Linked DNA regions of Homo sapiens: region 1 is linked to region 2. A link means that fine-mapping ties the variant in region 2 to the expression of a gene that starts in the linked region. Tissue or cell type: blood mononuclear cells. Region 2 holds a variant in brackets; the other region holds the start of a gene. All regions are shown on one strand. Distances are from middle to middle.

Region 1 (7,704 bases), 35 kb after region 2:
TGGAAGGGTAGAAGGATAGGAAAATAGGGGACAGGGATTCCCTTGGGGAGTTTCCTTTACGAGGTGGAGACGAGTCCCCTTAGCATAGGGTAGGGGAGGTAGAAGGGGAAGCAGGGGGCAACTATACAGAGTCCACTTGTCTCAGGTCACCATGGCCCCCTGGCCCATGGCTTCAGGCTGCAAATCTTGCCAGGCTCTCCCCTTGGCCCTGGCTGAGCGCCTCACATCAAAGGTCAGCAAAGTTCAATCTCTTCCCCTCTACCTGTAAGACAGAGAAATCAGTGGGTTACTCCTCCCTCTGAAATTGTCATTAATCCATTCTCCTCCCCATCCCATCTCTCTTACCTCCTGCTTACTGGATAATCTGTTCTCAAAAAAAAAAAAAAAAAAGTTTCCTCTAGGAGAATCTACAAGCTGAGTCCTATACCTTAGCTTCACAGCTTGTTCCCTTTCCCTTTCTTAGAATACCCAAATGAATGTCCAAATTCTCCTCTCTAAGCAAAGCTCAGAGATGGAGCAGTATATGCAAATGATAGGAACAAATCTCCCATCAACAAGAGGCTAAATATCCTAGAAGGCTAAAAACAGGCCTGCTCTGAAAGGAGTTCCTAGCCCATGACCGAGCAGCTGGCAGCCAGCAACAGCTCTGATCTTTCTGTGAGGAAGGGACGGAAAGCCCCGGAAGTCTTCAGAAGTCCCATGCTCCAACAAAATATCAGATAAGGAACTCATGAGTCTGTTAATCTTCTCATCAATCAAACCCAATATCACAGCCAACAGCTTTAACGAACTTGCAGTCAGGTGGACACTATGGTGGGGGAGTTCAAAAGGAAAGAGCAATCCTCATGATAGGTAATCATTCTACCAGTTTCCAAACCCAGAAATTAGGGACTCCCTTACCCGTTGCTTGTGAAACATTACCTGCCCCTGACCTTCACCTCAACTTTGCCAGTCAGGAGATAAAAATGTAACCCCTGAGCAGGCCACACACTGGGTGCTGAGAAAAGCCATACAGCTGAGTCCACTCTACTTCTCCTTCCTAACTTAGCCTAAGTAGTTCTACAACCCTATTCCTAAACAGCTCAGAAGAGTCCCTGAGCTAGTCTGGAGAGACATGAGGTATTGAGTCCAGTTACACAAACAGAACAACTTGAGTAAGGACTGGATGACAGAGAGCAACAGGAGCTTAAGTCACATCCAACCAATGACAGAAGGAAAAAGGACAGTGTGATCAGAAAACAGTTTTAAGGAGGTCTAATTTTGGGGATCTCTTTTATTATTTTTAGATGGAGTCTTGCTCTGTCACCCAGGATACAGTGTGCTAGTGTGATCATAGCCTACTGCAGCTTCAAACTCCTGGGCTCAAGTGATCCTCCCACCTCAGCCTCCCATGTAGCTGGGACTACAGCTTTGCACCACCACACCCTACTAATTTTTAATTTTTTTTAGAGATGGGGGTCTTGTTACGTTGCCCAGGCTGGTCTTGAACTCCTGGGGTCAGACAGACAATCCTCCGGCCTCAGCCTCCTGAGTCTGTTCTTTTTCTTAAATCGACTGCTTCTGTAAGCTTTATTGTCACTATCCCCACTCAGCCTCCTTGTAAGGCTGGCAATCCCTCTCTACCACCCACCCCCAAACACACATCTCAGGGGTGATAAGGCAGAGCTGAGGTCCTTCAGAATTGACAGAGATGATTTAAAAACAGTTCAGGACAGGCGTGGTGCCTCACGCCTGTAATTCCAGCACTGTGAAAGGCCGAAGCGGGTGATCACTTGAGGTCAGGAGTTCGAGACCAGCCTGGCCAACATGGTGAAGCCCCGTCTCTACTAAAAATACAAAAATTAGATGGGCATGGTGGTGGGCGCCTGTAGTCCCAGCTACTCAGGAGGCTGAGGCAGGAGAATCACTTGAACGTGGGAGGCGGAAATTGCAGTGAGCTGAGATTGTGCCACTGTACTCCAGCCTGGGTGACAGAGCTAGACTCCAGCTCAAAAAAAAATAAAAATAAAAATAAAAATAAAACAGTTCAGCTTTGGCCTAGGTAAAACGACACGAGAAGACAGCTGGGGGAGAGGATCAAAATGGTGACGGGAAGGGGTGAATGCTAAGAATGTGATGCAACTTTAGAGAAAACATTGTAGTGAGGAGGTCACTGACGGGAAGTTGATACTCAGGGTGTATCATCCCGTATTTGAGAAATTACAACTTGCCAGCCATTCTTCTAAGAGCTTCACATATATTTAATCTTCACACCAGCCCTAAGAGGTAGGGAAAAGGTACATGCTCCATTATCCCCATTTCACATATGAGTAACTCAGAGAAGCTTAGAACCTTGCCCAGGATCACACAGCTCAGTTGGTGGGAGGGCTGGGATTCGACGTCAGGCCTGTCAAGCTCCAGAGCCGCGTTCTTAGCCGCTGCATTTTAGCTTCATACCTGGAAGAAGCAGCAAGGTTTAGGGAAGGGGCGCCGGGAGCGCCGCAGGCCGGGCCAGTGAACACTGAGGGCCAGCAGGGCTGGGCGGGGTGGGTGTGTGCGGGAGATCTCTGAGGACGGCGAAGCCAGACGGGGGCCGGGGCCGGGCCCGGGCTTGGGGAGGCCGGGACGGCCGGAGCAGCGGCGCGGAGGCTGCGGGCGCCGAGGGGGCCCGGGGCTGGCGGGTGGAGGGGCCCCGCCGAGAGGAGACGGGGGCACAGGTGGATGCGAAGAGCGCACCGGATGTGGGACACCAAAGGGGAAGGGGCCACAGGCGCGCGGCGGCGACTCCGGGGTGACATCGAGACAGCCTCTGGGCTGGGAGAGCCCTGCGGGAAGAAGGGAGCCCGCCCGGTCCGGAGGGGAGCGAGGCGGTTCTGAGGGAGGCCGGCGGAAAGGACCCGGGGCGCGGCGCACGCTGGGCCGCCCGGGACGACCCTGCGGGTGGTGATGGTGGCAACATCCAAGGGAGTCTGTTGGGGGGGCCTGAGCGCGACCGTGGGCGGGGGGGTCTCCTCAGGGGCGGCTCACCCGGAGGACTGGGCGGCGTCCCCGCTGTCCCCGGGCTCCGCCGCGTCCCGGGGCTGCCCGGCTTCCCTGCTTTCGGGGCCACGGGCCGCGTCGCGGCTGCTCCGCCATCTCCGAGCGAACGCTCTGCCGCAGCCTGGCCCAACCACCGCTCCCACCGGGGGAGGCGGCGCGCCGCCGCTGGTGGCACCCGCTCGGATCCACCGGCTCCGGCCCTAGCAGCCGCGCGACCTGGGTTCCGGGAAATCAAGCGGCCCTCCGCAGTGCCGGGCCGAGCCGCGGCCTCCGAGACGGCGGGCTCCGCGCCCCGCCCGCGGAAGCGCACCCCCTCCTCTCCGCGCGATGGCACTGCCGGCCGAGCGTCGGGGACCACGACTTCGGAGCAGGGGCGGGCTCAGGCCTGGGCTCATCCACTCAGCCCCGCGGAGGGGGAGCCGGGCCGGCCCACTCGGGGGAGGGGAGGAGTAAGAGGCGGAGCGGCCTAACCGGAGGCGGGACCAGGGGCGGGGCGAGGCCCTCAGCCGGCTCCCAGGGCACTCACCCTCCCTCCCCGCCCCGCGTCGCCTGCGCAGCACCGAGCGCTGTTTGGAGGCTGTTTATGAGAAGTTTTTTTTTTTTTTTTTTTTTTTTTTTTTTTTTTTTGAGACGGAGTCTCACTCTGTCGCCTGGGCTGGAGTGCAGTGGCGCGACCTCGGCTCACTGCAACCTCCCCCTCCCAGGTTCAAGCGATTCTCCTGCCTCAGCCTTCCGAGCAGCTGGGATTACAGGCGCCCGCCACTATGCCCAGCTAAATTTTTTGTATTTTTTAGTAGAGACGGGGTTTCACCATATTAGCCAGGCTGGTCTCGAACTCCTGACCTCGTGATTCGCCCGCGTCGGCCTCCCAAAGTACTGGGATTACAGGCATGAGGAAGTTTTATTCTCAAAAGTACCCAAAGGGAGTAGGAGGAGGTACTCTCTCCAACCTGGTAAGCCAGGCTGCTAAAATCTACGCCTCTGGCCGTAAACCTCCAACAGCAGTAACACAATGGACTGTTTAAAGGTTATTTTATTAAATATTTTCAGTTCAAGGTTTCATTGTAACAAAGCTATGAAGGGTCTACCAACATTCAGAACAAACACTATTTTTAAATTATTTCTATGTTGTCATGCAAAAATTCTGCATCAAATGCCTTCCGTTTCTTGTTTAAAAGGTGATTTTTTAATAGTCTATTGTCTATAGATGCTGACATTAGCCCCAGAAGAGGAGTAAGAATGCTAAGAAGTGGGGCTGGAGCAGCCATATGAAGCTATGGGTCTCAATGAATTCTAAGACCATTTGTCTTCAAGCCAGCAAAACGAAACCCTGTGGTGAAGGGATTTGCGTGCTGGCACTGCAGACTGCAGGGCAGGAAAGGGCTAGGGCCCAGGGGCTGGGACATGCATGAGGTGCTCGGAGGAGCCTGGCTAAATCCAAGCACCAGCACCTGTGAGTCTGCTCTCTTCTCAGCTGGCTCCCAAGTAAACCTGTAGCTTTGCCTCTTCTCCCAGCTCTCGTGCCTCCTGAAGGTAGTCCAGGGAACTGGAATCTACCCACCTTTCCCCCAAAAGTGGAGATGTTTGTGCAGATAAATCTGCAGCGTTGTTTTGAGGGAAACCAAGGCCATGACCAATTGCTCCTCCATTATCTTCTTTGCTATCTGCTTAGGGTATAGATCTCTTCCTCCTGGAATGGAACTCCTTGAGCACAGAGAGGGACAATGAAGGTAGAAGCCTTGGCTCTGGACACCTCTTTTGGGTTACATGCGGGGAGGGGTGATGCCCATGCAGATTGTCCAGCAGTAAGTCTATACTTCAGTTGGTCAGTAAAGAGGCCTCTGTAAGGACACCTCTTCTTCTTGCCAGAGCAGTCAGGTCAATCTCAAAGACAGGAAAAGAGATGGACGTGCAGCAAGGAAGAATAAGAAGGGAGGCAGCCCCAAAGGCAGCCTGAATGCATAGAAACGACCACCACCTCTTCTCCCACTGCCTCACTCCTCCCATCCCACAGGGGCACTTGGCAGAGGGCCCAGGCCCAGATGAGGGTCAGCATGGGGACCACTACCGTGAAAAGGCAAGACAAAGATGGTCCAGATCAGCACAGAAACAGAACCGCCAAAGGCGGCACGGGAGCCCTGACCAGGGCCTGGCTCTCTCCTTGCCAGGTTAGAAGAAAACACGAAGCAAAGCAGCAACAACCCCTCCCCCTCCTAGCTGCAGGGATAAGGCCTCAATATTAGGGCCCACATGCATTGTGCATCCTATAGAAATGGATGAGTGAGTGCATGTCAGACTAACACGAGGTTTCTCATCGGCTTCATGGCGGGTACACTTCTGCAGCACCAATTCTCTTCCCTTCTACACTAAACAAGACAGTACAGCAACGTCCGGGCTCTCAGTCCTGAGGCCACCACTTCTCAGCTGCCTCCACAGCAGGCTGGGAGCTCTGCGTTCTCTCCCAAGTAGGTCTGATGGTCACGATGTTCTCATCAGCCCCATTCTAGGCGCCTATGCAAGTTCCAAAGAAGTTCATTCCTAGACCTGGGGTAAGCAGGCCACCTCAGGAGCTGCAATCACATCACGGCCCCCAAAGCTCTGTCAGAGTTCTTGCCTGGTCCCCCTAAGTCCATGGGGACCAGAGAGGCCAAGCTCACCTCTTCAAGGCCGGTGGGTGAGCCACTGCTCATGCCAGGATGGACCTCATACATACTCCTGCCTTCTTGCCAACCCAAGGGCTGTCGGTGGTTTTAAAACGCATCATGGTATGGATTCCTTTTTTTTTTAAACAATCTTTTTTTCTTTTTTTTTTTTCTTAAATGTAAAAAACACCTCGGTACAGCAGAGACAGACACGAAGGGCGGGCGGGAGGGCTGCATGCAGGGGCGTGCATTGGCTGCTGCCGCTTTTGTAATTGAATTGTTTTAAACCTCAAACAAACAGGACTGCCGCTGTCACTCAGGCCCTCCAGAGCCACTGGCTGCGAAGGTTGGACCTCCGGCTGGAATCTCCTAAAGCCCCTGTCAAACAGGACAGAATGTGGTAACAGAACAGAGGACAATGAGCACACAGATGAGTTCCAGCGACTTTAGCACGCTAAACACATGGCCAAGTCGGCCTGAGAAGGTGGGGAAAGTGGGTGAAGCTAATGCTTAAATACAAAACTGCCTCCCATTTGCTAAGCACTAACTAAGTGCTTTACTTATAGTATCTTACTTAATCCTCACAATGATTAAATGAGGTAGGCACCACTCTCTGCCTTTCTTTGACAGCTAAGGAAACAGTTTAGGGAGGGGAAGTAACCTGTCTGAGGTCATCCAATTTGGAGTCACGGAGCCAGACCCTAGTCTGTCTGATTTCCAAGCATAACTTATTGCAACCATTCTGCCAGGCTTTGCCAGTCCTCTGGGACGGCCCACACCTCCTCTCCCAGGACCACCTCCCAGCCTTCTCTTCTTCCTCTGACCCCACCTATCCCAGGCCCTTCCAGCCCCTCTCCCCCGTCAACCAGGTGCACCTGTGGCTGAGCTCACTGCAGCGGTGCGGCAGGGGCCCCTGAGCAGTGATAGTGGACATTGAGCCACTTGCCATCCCGACGGTGCCAGACCCGGGTCTCTTCTGACTGGCTGGTGCGAGGCCGACCCTGCCCGTCGATGTACTGGGTGAGGCGGATGTAGGCGATGCACGCTGCGTCCTCCCCAATCACGTGGACGTGTGGGTTTAGGATGGTGGTATGGATAGGCTTGCTGTTCTTGGACAGGACTGCAGGGCAGGGTGGGGTAGGTAAGAGGACATCAGGCCTGGGCACCTGCATTTTCCTCCCAGCCTGCACTTCCAAGTCTTACCATCTCCCAAGCAACCACTCCCAGAATCTCCAAGTACCGCCCCCCCCCACCCCCGAACCCCTGAACGCCCTCCAGAGGCCAGGATGCCACATTACATTAGTCTCCTTTATCCAAAAGGAACAGAAAGATGGGTAACAGTGACAGTACCTGCTGCGCTTTTAATCAGGCATTGTGCTGGGGTTTTACATGCCCGAGCTGTATTTCTTGGTGGATAATATTTTCTTCATTATAAGATGAGGAAATAGGCTCAAGGAATAATTTGCTCAAATCACACACCTGAACTCAGGACCATGTGACTCTTAACTAAAGCCTATAGATTTTCTATTCTGTTAGGCTGAGTTTAGATTTCATAAGGCTTGGCTCACCCCTAGCTAGGGCTGCAGAACAAAATCATGAACTTAAACCATTCAAAATTGATTTGTAATTTTTTTTAAGGCACCAAAGCTGAAATAGAATCATCAAAGCACCAAGCTCAGGATATTCCCAGGATTCTCTGGGGAAAAGGCAAAAGAAGTTGGATTGCCATTATCAGCATATGCTGTGAAAACTGTGTTGCTTTTATTGAGATTCACATTTTAGTTCAATTCAAATGTTAGACAGGGGCTACATGACACCTTCCTAGTACTAATATAAACTCTGGAATTGCTTCTGGCTAATAGAATTACTTAGATAACAGAGAGTTTATATATGTAGCTGAGATGTGATAAGGGTGGGAGCCAGCGGAGAAGTTAGTGACTAACTATAACTCAGGGCAGGATAGGGAAGGCCCAGCATAAAGTGGGAAGAGATAAAAATAAGGAAGGGGAGGGTCTCATAGAGCAGAGAGAAAGATGGGAGGGGG
Region 2 (8,438 bases):
GCATACAAGCAACCTGGGGGCATCACCAACCAATTTCTTCTGGATAGTCTGAAGCATCGGGAGTGGGGAGTGAATGATCCTTTGCTGCCTAACTACCTCAACGGCTTCGAGTGTTTCGTCTGTGACTACGAACTGGCTCGGCTGGATGCCGAGAAAGCCCACGCGGCCTCTCCCGGGGACAGCCCCGTCTTTGAGCCCCACATTGCCCAGCCCTCACACATGGACTGCCCAGTGCCCACACCTGGCTTTGGCAATGTGGAAGAGATTCCTGAGAATGACAGGTAAGAGTGCTGGGGTCCCCTGCAGCTATCAAATCATTTACTTACTTGCTTACTGTGGGCAATTAAGTAGCACTAGGTGCTGAGCAGGTGCAGGAGGAAATTATCACATGGGCTCATTCTGTATTTAAGGTGTCAACAGTCTAGTTGGGGGGATAAGACAAGCTGAAAAAGCTGAATAGATGTAAAATATAATTCAAGGCAACGTATGAAAATCAGCTTATGTGAACAATGTTTCCAGTAGTGGTTCAAAAAGATTGAACCAGAGTACAGGGCCTGTGCAGACAGGGGAGAGAGAAAATGGGGCAAATAAATAGGGACAAGGCTATAAATATCATTAATACCAGGTTCAGGAGTTTGCACTGCACTAAAAATCAACTCAGCTATTTGAGCACCTTTTATAGAGTGGAAATGGGGTTGGGCAGTAGAGAAGAGCACTTTTAGAGAGGCTTTTCTGCAGTAGTCAGGGGTTACACCTGTTAACCAGCCATAATTTTTTTTTTTAAGCGGCTGTGCTGAGGATGAGCCCCATGTAGTTGGTGCAGGTGGGGACACACTGCCTGTGTAACTAGAAAAACTAGGCATGGCCGGGCACGGTGGCTCACACCTGTAATCCCAGCACTTTGGGAGGTCAAGGGGGGAGGAACACTTGAGGCCAGAGACAATATAATATATAATATAATATATTGACCAGCCTGGACAATATAATAAGAGCCTCTCTGTACAATTTAAAAACTAAAAGCCTGGGGTGGTGGCACATACCTGTAGTCCTGGCTACTTGGGAGGCTGTGGCAGGTGGATTGCTTGAACCTAGGAGTTCAATGCTGTAGTGAGCTAGGATCGTGCCACTGCATTCCAGCCTGGGTTGGAGTAAGACCCTGTCACACACACACACACACACAAAACAATGCACAATGCGCATCAGAAGGGAAGCGAATAGGCTACTGTAGTAGGTGGCAAAAGGTGGTGGTACTGGGAAACAAGGCCAGCGTGTGGTGTGGGGTGGGAAAATGTTGAAACCACTTGTAGCAAGCCACACCTATTGGGGGAGAGGTGATAAGATTATTAAGCTGAAGTAAGGCTGCTAGAATGGCCTATAGAAACCGACTTGGACAGTGGATGGCAGCAGAAGGCCATTTATTAACAGATGCTGCTGGCAGTTTTGTCCTGATGGTTGGAATCCTTCACCAAGTAATTTGTATCTAATTACAAATTGTTTGTATCTGAACATAATATGATTTACTAGAGGAAAAGTATGAAAAAATATGAAACATTAAGAAAATAAATATTCAGGTTATGTCTTTTCTAGATACTGGATGCTACTTCATTTTGATGCACCTTCATTTTGATTATTGGCATAAAGGTGAAACTTAAAAGATAATCATCTAAAGACCCCTGCCCCCTTGCTTTCCTTATGGAGACTGCCACTTCCAGTCTGGCCTCTGCTTTGCCTGCCTCTGAACCCCCTCCACATTTGGGAGCCAGAAGCAGGCAAGTCAGGAATCGTAATTGATTGGGTAGTCTGTGTGATGTCTTTGTGTTTGTGACTTACTGCCTGTCGCTTGGGCTTATATTGGATTTACTTCACTTTGTCTTCCTTTCACAGCAGTCTTGTCCAAGTTAGAGACCACTGTATCTGCTTAAGATTTCTTTGGCCCCACTCGGAAAAAGGCAGGACTCATAACTATGCTGCAGTTCCATAATCCAACCCCCATTTTGATATTTCAGTTGGAAAGAGATGTGGCTGCAAGATTATTGGCAAGGTCTGGACCAGGGGGAAGCTCTCACTGCCATGATCCACAACAATGAAACAGAGCAGACGAAATTTTGGGATTACCTACATGAAATCTTCATGAAGAGGCAACATCTCTAAGTGCCCTTGCAAGAGCCTTTAACTTGGCGGAGCTAAGGAGATCTTATTCTACCATGGGACATAAGGAGCATCCACTGCACAAACCCTTAATGAACACTGTCTTTTCATGGATTCAAGGAATTCCAGTTTTATCTATTAAGATTTTATCTTAATGATGAGTAGCCAAGGTCTAACATAGGGCCTCTCCTCAAGGAGAGATGGAGGGATACAATTCTTGGTTCAGTGGGAAACAGAACCCTAAAACATCCATTTGATTCAAGGTGCTGGTCCAACAGAGTTTTTAAACTACTCACTTCTTTATTTCATCCTTTCGACTGTACTTGATTACCAGTGAAGTAAGATGGGTCAGGTTACGACTTACAACTTTTGTTCTATTCCCCAGACTCCTCATTATTCAGTACATTTCCCAATAATCTCTTTTTCTCATCTCTTGCTTTATAAATTGTTACGTTGGTGGAGAAGCAAAACATTTGGTGAGTTGTATTCTGGTTTTCCGGAGTTGGATTTTTTTATATTATATACTTTCATGTCAAACTTCTATTTTACTTATTTATTTATTTTTTTAAAATATTTTTTGTAGAGATGAGGTTTTGCCACATTGCCCAGGTTGGTCTCCAACTCCTGGATCAAGCAATCCATCCGCCTTGACCTCCCAGAGTGCTGGGTTTACAGGCATCAGCCACCTCACCCAGCCCTAATTTTTTTTTTTTTTTTGGCTTTTTCTGGCCAGGCGTAGTGGCTTATGCCTGTAATCCCAACACTTTGGGAGGCCGAGGAGAGGCGACTGCTTGAAGCCAGGAGTTTGAGACCATCCTAGCAAGACCTTGTCTCTAAAAAATAAAAGAATTAGCAGGGCATGGTGGTGCACACCTGTAGCCCTAGATACTTGGGAGGTTGAGGCAGGAGGATCACTTGAGTCCAGGAATTTAAGGCTGCAATGAGCTATGATCATGATCACTGCACTCCAGCCTGGGTGACAGAGCGAGACACCGTCTCAAATTATATATATATATTAAGATGGAGTCTTGCTTTGTCACCAGCTGGAGTGCAGTGGCATGATCTCGGGTCACTGCAACCTCCACCTCCCTGGTTCAAGCGATTCTCCTGCCTCAGCCTCCTGAGTAGCTGGGACTACAGGCATGCACCACCACGCCCAGCTAATTTTTTGTATTTCTAGTAGAGACAGGGTTTCGCCATGTTGGCAAGGATAGTCTCGATTTCTTGACTTCGTGATCCGCCCGCCTTGGCCTCCCAAAGTGCTGGGATTACAGGTGTCAGCCACCGCACCCGGCCTCAAATACATTTTTTTAATGGCCTTGTCTTTCCTGGTTTTAGGCCCTTTTCCACAATTTCTGATGGAAATACAGAAACCTTGCCATCATTCTTACTGCTGGTTTGCATCTCATTTATGGTGTATCTGGGATTTCTTCTCATGAACAGAAAGATTCAGTGGCTGTTATATGCCTTGTCAATTTAATGTATTGCCCTATCCTCTTTTTGATCAAAGATAGAGACTAAGACTGGGAATTATGACAGAAAAAGTCATATTTTTCTTTAAATGATTTTGAAATGTTAAAATAGGCCAATATGAGTCAAAGTGCAAATTTTTTGGTGAGTAGGTTGACAAAAAAAAAAAAAAATCCAGGAAAAAAAGTGCAAATTTTTATAGGTCCTAATTCTTTTGTTTGCCTAATGAAGTGTTCCCTCTATTTTATTGTTTTTATATGCTACAAAGTCCCATCTTCTGCAGTTATGGAAACAGTGTGGCTGTATGTTTTAGTAATTATTTCATAATCTGTAGCACTTTTCACTTTAAGTGCAATGAATAGTCCAGCTTCATTCACTGTATTACTAATACGCTTCCCTATGACTTTTTTTTTTTTTTTGAGATGGAGTTTCGCTCTTGTTGCCCAGGCTGGAGTGCAGTGGCGCGATCTCAGCTTACTAGAATCTCTGCATTCCCAGTTCAAGTGATTCTCCTGCCTCAGCCTCCCTAGTAGTGGGGATTACAGGCGCCCGTCACCACATCTAGCTAATTTTTGTATTTTTAGTAGAGATGGGGTTTCACCATGTTGGCCAGTCTGGTGTCGAACTCCTGAGCTCAGGTGATTCACTTGCCTTGGCCTCCCAAAGTCCTGGGATTACAGGCGTGAGCCACCGTGCCCAGGTGCCCCCACCTTTTTTTTTTTTTTGAGGCAGAGTCTCACTCCATCACCAAGGCTAGAGTGCAGTGGCGTGATTTTGGCTCACTGCAGCCTCTGCCTCCCAGGTTCAAGCAATTCTCGTGTCTCAGCCTCCAGAGTGGTGGGATTACAGGCACGCACTACCATGCCTGGCTAATTTTTTTGTATTTGTTTTAGTAGAAACAGGGTTTTGCCATGTTGGCCAGGCTGGTCTCGGACTCCTGACCTCAAGTGACCCACCCGCCTCGGCCTCCCAAAGTGCTGGGATTACAGGAGTGAGCCCCGTGCCCAGCCTGAGACTACTTTTTGATGGAGCCCACTCAAGGGGATGAGGAGGTTTAAGCCACAAGTGGCTGGCTAAATAAAAGCTTAGTCAGAGCTGGGCACGGTGGCTCACACCTGTAATCCCAGCTACTTGGGAGGCTGAGGCAGGAGAATTGCTTGAACCTGGGAGGCAGAGGTTGCAGTGAGCTGAGATCGCACCATTGCACTCCAGCCTGGGTGACGAGCGAAACTCCATCCCAAAAAAAAAAAAAAAAAAAAAGCTTAGTCAGATTTGGGGATGCAGCCAAACCCTTCTGTTGCTGTGGTTTGAACATACAGTCTAATGAGCAGGGAGACCATTAGCTCTTTCTGGGGCAGTGGGACAGGAAAGAATACCTTGGACCTTAGGGCTACTCTAGTTGTAATGTATTAGTGAGTTATCACTAGAGAAGTTCCACAGTTTAATATTATCTATACCTATATCTATATATCTACCTATATAGATAGATATATGTTAGATGCTTCAACAACTAGGGTCTACACTTAATATACTGACATCTAAGGATGCGGCCAAGAAAAGCTGTAATTAGGCTGAATTTTATTGCCAAAGTTGTTCTTTTTTCATTTAGTCCTTTAATAAAAGATGATCTTCATAAATTACAGAAAGTTTGCTTACCCTGTTTGACCTTTTGCAGAAAAGAACAAGAGGGAAGACAGACCTTCAGGCTGGGTGCAGTGGCTCATGCCTGTGATCCCAGCACTTTGGGAGGCCAAGGTAGGAGGATCGCTTGAGCCCAGGGATTCAAGACCAGCTTGGGTAACATGGTAAAACCCCATCTCTACAAAAAACAGAAAAAATTAGCTGGGCATGGTGTGTGTGCCTTGTAGATCCAGCTACTTGGGAGGCTGAAGTGGGAGGATCGCCACTGCACTCCAGAAACTAAAAAAAAAAAAAAAAAAAACCTTCAAAAATATATCTAAGCCAGATGTGATGGCATGGGTCTGCAGTCCCAGCTACTCAGAAGGCTAAGGCAGGAAGATCGCTTGAGCCCAAGAGTTTGAGGCTGTAGTATGCTGTGAGTGCGCCTATGAGTGCCAACTGGGCAACACAGTGAGACC[T/C]CTGTCTAAAAAAAAAAAAAAAATCTGTTGGGCTGGGTGAGCTGGCTCACGCCTGTAATCCCAGCACTCTGGGAGGCCAAGGCAGGCAGACCACCTGAAGTCGGGAGTTCAAGACCAGCCTGACCAACATGGAGAAACCTCATCTCTACTAAAAATACAAAATTAGCTGGGCGTGGTGGCGCATGACTATAATCCCAGCTACTCAGGAGGCTGAGGCAGAAGAATCGCTTGAACCCAGGAGGCGGAGGTGGTGGTGAACCAAGATCACGCCATTGCACTCCAGCCTGGACAACAAGAGCAAAACTCCATTTCAAAAAAAAAAAAAAAATCTGTTAAAATTTGATATAGTAGGCACTGACAAAAGAGGTCAAATGCAGGACTGATTTCTAAGCTTGCAATCTATCTAAATGCAGATGCTAATTTAGAGTGCATAATTATTACACAAGTACAGACCTAGGTTAGGGCTTAAATTTCATTATGTGCAATAAAAAGGTTAAGTGATGGTTAAGCAAGGTGTAGATTATCCTTACCTCTCCTAATGACATGGGCTCACATTGGCATTCCTTTCATACTTTTACGTATAAAGTGGGCAGTTGTTTCTGAATGACTGTTGCTGGAGCCTCAGGCCTGCTTTGTGCTTGGTGCTTTCCAGACTTTCTCCTTTATTCCTATCACCATATACGTACTCACAAAAGAGCAGTGTAAACCAGGTATTACATTTCCACAAGGGAAAGTAGAACCAGGAATAGCCACATGATACTTACCGAAAGCTTCACTTTCCCTATAGAGAAAGCAAGCAACATGAATCTTCTGATTTGGGGCCCAGCCTGCTGCTGTATACAGAGGTTGGCATTATTGGTGATAGAAATGTCTGATAGGAGTCTTTTAATTATACTCTGGAGTGTGGAGGTGGAGTGCAAGGCTGCTTCCTTTATTACTGCAAGTGTTATTTTCTATTATCTCAGGTTTCGTTTTGTGTAATAAACTGCTTCTTGTTAAACAATGTCTTCTGCTTCATTATTTTTTTGGGGGTGGGTGTAATAAAGTTGGAGATTTGTAAAAAAGTTTCAGGTTGGGTGTGGTGGCTCATGCCTGTAATCCCTGCACTTTGGGAGGCCAAGGAGGGAAGCTCACGTGAGCCCAGGAGTTCAAGAGTAGTCTGCGCAACATACTGAGACCCCATCTCTACAAAAAATAAAACCAAGCCAGCCGGGTTTGGTGGTGTGAGCCTGTGGTCGCAGCTACTCCAGCAGCTGAGGCAGGAGGATCACTGGAGTGAGGCCAAGGCTGCAGTGAGCTAATATTCCACTGCACTCCAACCTGGGTGACAGAACAAGACCCCAAATCCAAAAATAAATAAATAAATAAAACATTTGCTCATTTAACAAGTATTTATTGGTACTATTCTAGGCACTGGGGATTCAGCAATGAACAAGATAGACAACGTTCCTTCTTTCATGCTTACATTTTTAAATGGGTGTTAGGGATAGGTAAGGCCATAATAAGACAATTCAGACTGTGATAGGTGCTATGGAGAAAACAGGTTGATGGTGGTGAGGTGTGAGAGGTCAGGGAAGCCCTCTGTGACATGAACTGAGACTTAAGGGAAGAAAAATAAGCAGCCATGCAGAAATCAGTGGGAAGATTCCAAACATCTGTGATAAGTGATTTTTTTAACACACTAAATTTACAAATCCAAATGTTCTTCCTCCAAAGTAGTCATGAGCTACAGGCTTGTTTTCTGCTTCCATTACCAAAAACATTTCTTGGAGCTTATTTGGAAATGCTTTGAGAATATGCTGCACATCTTTGGAATGAGTTGTGAAAATGGCCAGAAGAAGTCACTTGAGAAACAAGTCTGGCTGGGCGCGGAGGCTCAGTCATGTAAAGCACTTTGGGAGGGCGAGGCAGGAAGATCGCTTGAACCCAGGAGTTCGAGACCAGCCCGGGCAACATGACAAAACCCCGTCTCTACAAAAAATAATTAGCTGGGCGTGGTGTCTTGCACCTGTGTTCTCAGCTACTCAGGAGGCAGAGGCGGGAGGATCGTTTGAGTTCAGGAGTTTAAAGCTGCAGTGAGCTATGAACGTGCCACTTGCACTCCAGTCTGGGCAACCAAGAGAGACCCTATCTCAAAAAAAATTCTGATTAAGCATCACAACTGAAGGTCCAAGTCTGTAAGACTGGCGAGAGGACTGAAAAAGACGATGAATGCCAAGTGTTTAAGCTTCATCCTACCAACTGAGATTGTTATAAATGAGCAAACGGTATCTAACTAGTAGCAGTAGTAGCAGTTGTTGTTGTTATAAAATGAAACAAGTCTAATTTTTCTTTGCGGCTTTGTAGTGGTCCTATAGGCAGTGAAAAACGACAGTTCTTTCAGGTTTATTAAAGTAAAACACGAATCTTTCCCAACCCAACATCTTAAAGTCTCAAATTTTGATTCGCCACCCCCCCCCCCAACCCCGCCCTATGCCAATCGCCCCTAGACCAAGCCGGCTACCACCAGAACAGTGTCCACTTACCAGGGCCCTTTCCTGCATGTCCCCGGCCCCGTACTGCCCCCAGACTTCGGGGCCCGGAGCCCATCAAGGAGAAGCCTCAGTCGGCGTACGAACCCAGAGTCTCCTCCTAATCTGCTGACAAGTATGAACCCGCCGCTGTTCGAACCCAGCGTCGCCGCAGCCCCGGCCAAGTAAAAGAAAGAGGTGGCTGCCAGCA

What was found. PIP is the estimated chance that this variant, and not a neighbour inherited with it, causes the effect.
Region 1: it holds the start of NDST2, and the variant in region 2 is the best candidate, but not a certain one, in a credible set for the expression of NDST2 in blood mononuclear cells (TOPMed, PIP 0.68).

Annotation. Positions count from the first base shown.
Region 1 is chr10:73,808,468-73,816,171 of GRCh38, forward strand. It overlaps NDST2 (N-deacetylase and N-sulfotransferase 2), which reads right to left and starts at 3,131. Exons shown (of 15, transcript NM_003635.4): 1 at 3,007-3,131; 2 at 2,332-2,436; 3 at 1-262. CAMK2G (calcium/calmodulin dependent protein kinase II gamma) reads right to left here. Exons shown (of 23, transcript NM_001367534.1): 22 at 6,536-6,780; 23 at 4,034-6,038. The coding sequence ends at 6,548. It overlaps NDST2-ZSWIM8-AS1 (NDST2-ZSWIM8-AS1 readthrough), which reads right to left and starts at 3,353. Exons shown (of 18, transcript NR_182658.1): 1 at 3,007-3,353; 2 at 2,332-2,436; 3 at 1-262. RefSeq lists silencers at 2,566-2,635, 2,936-3,645, 6,224-6,477.
Region 2 is chr10:73,773,535-73,781,972 of GRCh38, forward strand. It overlaps LOC107984243 (a long non-coding RNA gene), which reads right to left and starts at 8,419. Exons shown (of 2, transcript XR_001747500.3): 1 at 8,243-8,419; 2 at 7,095-8,068. It overlaps POFUT4 (protein O-fucosyltransferase 4), which reads left to right. Exons shown (of 3, transcript NM_173540.3): 2 at 1-281; 3 at 2,007-2,685. The coding sequence ends at 2,151. RefSeq lists enhancers at 1-159, 4-53, 8,155-8,438. The variant T/C (reference allele first, on the strand shown) is at 5,718.